Regions from separate parts of the Homo sapiens genome. Here region 2 is linked to region 1. Evidence: fine-mapped expression QTL. A gene starts in region 1. The other region holds a variant in brackets. All regions are shown on one strand. Distances are from middle to middle. Region 1 holds the start of ZNF394 (zinc finger protein 394). Region 2 overlaps ZNF655 (zinc finger protein 655).

The links. PIP is the estimated chance that this variant, and not a neighbour inherited with it, causes the effect.
Region 2: its variant is fine-mapped to the expression of ZNF394 in whole blood (TOPMed, PIP above 0.99).

The regions. Positions count from the first base shown.
Region 1 is chr7:99,498,756-99,501,671 of GRCh38, reverse strand. ZNF394 (zinc finger protein 394) reads left to right here and starts at 1,391. Exons shown (of 3, transcript NM_032164.4): 1 at 1,391-2,034; 2 at 2,830-2,916. The coding sequence starts at 1,579. RefSeq lists enhancers at 1,781-2,060, 2,283-2,916.
Region 2 is chr7:99,572,579-99,575,494 of GRCh38, reverse strand. ZNF655 (zinc finger protein 655) reads right to left here. Exons shown (of 3, transcript NM_138494.3): 3 at 1-2,916. The coding sequence ends at 1,911. Among named protein-coding and RNA genes, the nearest start is that of ZNF655, 15 kb to the right of the region's middle. The variant G/A (reference allele first, on the strand shown) is at 1,669.

The sequences.
Region 1 (2,916 bases):
AGTAAGTGGTGTATCCTGAGTTGGTTCCTTCCAGTGGGTTCATCCTCTCGCTGACTTCAAGAATGCAGCCTCCGACCTTCACTGTGTTACAGCTCTTAAAGATGGCACGGACCCAAAGAGTGAGTAGCAGCAAGATTTATTGTGAAGAGCGAAAGAACAAACCTTCCACAGCATGGCAGAGCACTCCAGCCGGTTGCCTCCGCTGACTGGGGTGGGAGCTTTTAGTCTCTTATTTGTCCCCTCCCATGTCCGTTTCTGTCGTATCAGAACGCCCTTTTTTCCATCCTCCCTGCGATTGGCTGCTTTTAGAATCCTGCTGATTGGTCCATTTTACAGAGCGCTGATTGGTGCATTTTACAAACCTCTTGCTAGCTACAGAGCGCTGATTGGTGCATTTTTACAAACCTCTTGTAAGACAGAAAAGTTGTCCAAGTCCCCACTGGACCCAGGAAGTCCAACTAGCTTCACCTCTCACTGGGACTACAGGTGTGCACCACCACACCCAGCTAATTTTTTATTTTTTGTAGACATTGGGGTCTCCAATTCTTGGCTTCAAGCGATCTTCCCCCCTCAGCCTCCCAAAATGCTGGGATTACAGGCATACGCCACTGAGCCAGGCCAGGACACATCTTTGAGCCTCAATTTCCTCATCTTTTTTGTTTGTTTGTTAGGATCAAAGTCGTTAACATCTGATGTACATGGAAGCACTTAGTTTTAAAAAAAAAACAAAACTTTTTCCAACTGGGCGCAGCGGCTCACGCCTGTAATCCAGCACTTTGGGAGGCCGGGGCAGGCGGATCACGAGGTCAGGAGTTCCAGACCAGCCTGACCAACATGGTGAAACCCCATCTCTACTAAAATACAGAAAGTAGCCGGGCATGGTGGCGCGCGCCTGTAGTCCAAGCTACTCAGGAGGCTAAGACAGCCTGGCGACAGAGCGAGAGTCCGCCTGAAAAAAGAAAAAAAAACAACTTTGTCCAACCTGGGCAATATAATGAAACCCCATCCCCACAGAAAAATTAATAAACCGGGCGTGGTCGCGCGCACCTGTAGTCCTAGATACTTGGGAGGCTGAAGCTGGAGAATTGCTTGAACCCGGGAGACAGAAGTTGCAGTGAGCCGAAATCGCGCCACTGCAGTCCAGCCTGGGCGACAGAGCCAGACCCTGTCTATTTAATCCTGAAGGTTCCCGCCCTTGCCGGAGCTCGGCCACCGGCTCGGACGCCCGTATTTCCTCGGGATGCGGGAAACCGTCAAGACCCTCTGCGTCGGGCGGGGCTAGGACGATAAACCAGCGAGATGCACCTCACCCCATCAGGCGCCTAGAGAGGCCCCGGAAATGCAGGGAAAGGTGCCGCAAGGCCTCGATGACGCGCTTCCGGCACGGGATGTTTTCGGTTGTTTGACCGAGAGAGTTGTAGGCGCAAAGCTGAGGAAAGGAGAGTGTGGAGAGGGGCCTGGTGTGGTGGGGCCCGGTGTTTGGGACCGGAGGGTGTTGACGGCTGATGAGTTCCTTGGGTTTGCTCTTTCTTCACCTGAAAAGAAGACTCCAGGAAGGGCAGCACATGCCGGAGAAAGATGAATTCCAGCTTGACCGCCCAGAGGCGCGGCAGTGACGCCGAGTTGGGACCCTGGGTGATGGCTGCGAGGTCCAAGGACGCGGCGCCGTCCCAACGCGACGGACTTTTGCCCGTGAAAGTGGAGGAAGACTCACCCGGAAGTTGGGAGCCCAACTATCCCGCGGCTTCGCCGGACCCCGAAACTTCTCGACTGCACTTTAGGCAGCTGCGTTACCAGGAGGTGGCTGGACCGGAAGAGGCGCTGAGCCGGCTCCGAGAACTCTGTCGTCGGTGGCTGAGACCCGAGCTGCTCTCCAAGGAGCAGATCCTGGAGCTGCTGGTGCTGGAGCAGTTCCTCACCATCCTGCCCGAGGAGCTTCAAGCCTGGGTGCGAGAGCACTGCCCAGAGAGCGGGGAGGAGGCGGTGGCCGTGGTGCGGGCTCTGCAGCGAGCGCTCGATGGAACCTCATCCCAGGTGAGAAGCGAAAGGCCTGTTCTGGAGGTGGGAGTGTGGAAAATAGGCGTTTAGGGGTGCTCTGCGTTTCGGAACTTACTTCCTTATTACATTTCGTGTGAACATTGGGGTGTGTATGGACTTCCTTTCTGTAGGCCACAGTGACAGATCCATCCAGGAAATGACTTGTTATAGACCTCAGCATAAAGCGAACACGGATTACTGGTTTTCTTTCTTTTTCTTTTCTTTTTTTTTTTTTTCTTGTTGTTCTTGCTGTTGTTTGAGATGGAGTTTCACTCTTGTTGCCCAGGCTGGAGTGCAATGGCGCGATCTCGGCTCGCTGCAACCTCTGACTCCCGGGTTCAAGCGATTCTCCTGCCTCAGTCTCCCGAGTAGCTGGGATTACAGGCGCCCGCCACCACGCCCGGCTAATTTTTGTATTTTTAGTAGAGACGGGGTTTCACTGTGTTGGCCAGGCTGGTCTCGAACTCCTGACCTCAGGTGATCCGCCCGCCTCGGCCTCCCAAAATGCTGGGATTACAGGCGTGAGCCACCGCGCCCGGCCTTGTTTACTTTTAATCTGTATCATATTTCCATTCCCATACATCACAGTGATATAAGTTAAAGAAATATTTTGCTCCTACCTACCTCCAAAATTAGTGTAAATAGTCCACAGAAAGGCTTTTCAGGATTACAAGAGAATGTCAGCCTCTATCTCTGATCTCTCCAAACTCCCTTGTCGGTACAAGACTCAAGAAGAGTGTTAGTGCTGTACAGGGACAGCAGGTACTGAATGGGGCTCTTGTGTTGTTCCAGGGGATGGTGACTTTCGAGGACACGGCTGTGTCTCTAACCTGGGAGGAGTGGGAGCGCCTGGACCCAGCACGGAGGGACTTCTGCAGA
Region 2 (2,916 bases), 74 kb before region 1:
TGCAATCTCGGCTCACTGCAACCTCCGCCTCCCAGGTTCAAGCAGTTCTCCTGCCTCAGCCTCCTGAGTAGCTGGGATTACAGGCGCGTGCCACCACACCCGGCTAACTTTTGTATTTTTAGTAGAGACGGGGTTTCACCATGTTGGCCAGGATGGTCTCGACTGCCTGACCTCGTGATCCATCCGCCTCAGCCTCCCAAAGTGCTGGGATTACAGGTGTGAGCCACCATGCCCGGCCTGTGTATCTTCTTTATGTTTACCCTACCAAGAGCAGACCTGAGCATTTTGCTGGCCGTAGAGGTATATAAAAGAACTCTAAGCTTAGGCATGCAGAATAGGCACTGGATGAATGTAGTGAGGCTATTAGGAGTCTTGTTGGCTCCCTGATGTCCTTATCATGTCTTCTTCGCAGACTGTGGATGCACACAAGACAGCTAAAACCTTGGGCATCATTTGAAAATGTTTGGCTGCCTGCTACAATCTCAGGAGAGAGAATCCTTCATACTTATATTGGACTGGATATATTGTCAATCAAATTCTTTTTTAAAAAAAGATGCTTCACTTTAGGAAATAAGACACCAGACCAGCAACATCAAGTAGGTATGGAATACTTGCTGGTGAAACACTTAAAACTAGGAAACTTCTAAATCTTCTAAAGGTGCTTAAGAGAATGGAGAAGTTAATCAACAGGAATCCAAGTGTTGTGGCTGTAAAGCAATACGACATAAGATCCCTAGTAAAGAGCAGGCCTAAGAGTTGGTTTTGGAAAGAACTTGGGCCAAGAACAGCAGAAAAAGCTAAATGAGCTACTTACGTCGATGTGTTTTAATACTGGTGCATTAGCAGTATCTTATGGAAGTTGTGAACACTAAGAACCAATTTCAAAAAATATAAAAATGTTTATAGGGCATATTAAAATAAAAACAGCTTAAATGAGTTCTATAAATAAAATAGGCCCAGCACAGTGACACACGCCTGTAACCCCAGCACTTTGGGAGGACAGGTGGGAGGATCGCTTGAGGCCAGGAGTTCAAGACCAGCCTGGGCAACAAAGCAAGACCCCATCTCTGTTCTTTTTAATATCAAAATTATAATAAAAAAGTAAAAATAAACGTACCTACTTAGAATACATATTAAATAAAGGAACTCCATGAGAAAATGTCACTGCATTTACCAAGTCAACCCTAGATTTTTGTGCAATGAAAAAGATTGGGACTATGTATTAACAATTTCATAAACAAATAATCAACAATTTTCTCTCCATTATTTCGATGTTGGGTAAAGCCTGAAATGTGGTGTCGAGTTTTTCCATTTGCGTTACATCAAATTCTTGTCTACTATGGATATTCTGATATGACAAAGACTAGTTAAACTCCTATTGAAAGATCTGCCATTTACTACACCCAAATAAGTTCTCTTAGGTATAAATTCTTTGATGTTGAATGAGCGTTGGGTTATGACTGAATCTCCTCACACACATACATGCTTATTACATTTATAATCTTTTTGCATGGCGTGAATTTGATACTAAACAAGGTAGTTTCTTTGACTGATGGCTTTTTCACATTCATTGCAGCAATGGAATTTTATTCCCATGTGAATTCTCCAAATGTGACTAAGGTATGAAAATACTAATAGCATGAAAAATTTGCCACATTCAATACATTT[G/A]TAAGATTTCTCACTGGTATAGATTTGCAGGAGTCGATTAAGAGTTTAACACTAATACCTTTTCTTCATTCGTCACATTCAGAGGGTTTCTCTCTGGTGTGAATTATCTGATGCTGAGCAATGGCTGAGCTATGACTGAAGGCTTTACCACATGCAGTACATACATGATTTCTCCCTGGTGTGAACTCTCAGATGCTGAATGAAGCCTGAATTTGATAAATATCTTCCCATCTTCATTACATTCATGAGTTCTCTTTGGTATGAATGCTCTGATGTTGAACTAGATGTGCTCTCTGACTGGAGTTCTTTTCCCATACATCACAATCAAAGGCTTTCTGTCTGGTGAGGACTTCTTGTTGCAGGATAAGATCTGAGCTATGACTGAAACTGCCCTCATACTCATTACATTCATACGATTTCTCTTTCCTATGCATTTTGTGATGCTGAATAAGGCATGAGGTTTGACTGAAAGCTTTTCCACATTCATTACATTCATGTGCTTTCTCTCCTGTGTGAATTCTTTGATGCTGAATAAGATGTGAATTCAATCTGAAGTCTTTTCCACATTCACTACACGTATAGGGCTTTTCTCTGAAATGAATTCCTTGTTGTTTAATATAGGCCAACCCATATTCATCATACTCATAGGCTTTCTCTTCATGATGGACCCTCTGATGTTCAAGTAGGTATGAAGTATGGCAGAAGTCACTGCCACATACAGTACACTTACAGGGCATCTCTTTGTGAATTTTCTGATGTTGAGTAAGGTGGACACTACGACTGAAGACTCTTTCACAACTGCTACATTTGTAAGATTTGGCTCTGGTGTGAATTTTCTTATGCTGAATTATGCCTGAGCTTGGACTACAGGATTTATCAGACGCTTCACAGGATTTATCAGATGCTTCACATTTGTAAGGTTTTTCTCTAGTGTGTATTCTTTTATGTCGACTAAGACTTGAGCTCTGACTGAAAGACTTTTCACATTCTTTACATTTGTAGGGCTTCTCTCTAGTATGGATTCTCTGATGTCTAGTAAGGGCTGAGCTCTGATGGAAAATTTTCCCACATACATCACATTTATAGGATTTCTCAGTGTTAGGGATGCTCTCCCATTTATTAAGGTGGGAGAGATCCATTAAGCTTTCCTTACATTCACTACTCTGAAAATCCTCTGTTAGATTTAAGTGTTCATGTTTACCAGAGGCTGAATTCTGGTTGAAGCTCATGTCATACTTATCATTGTCA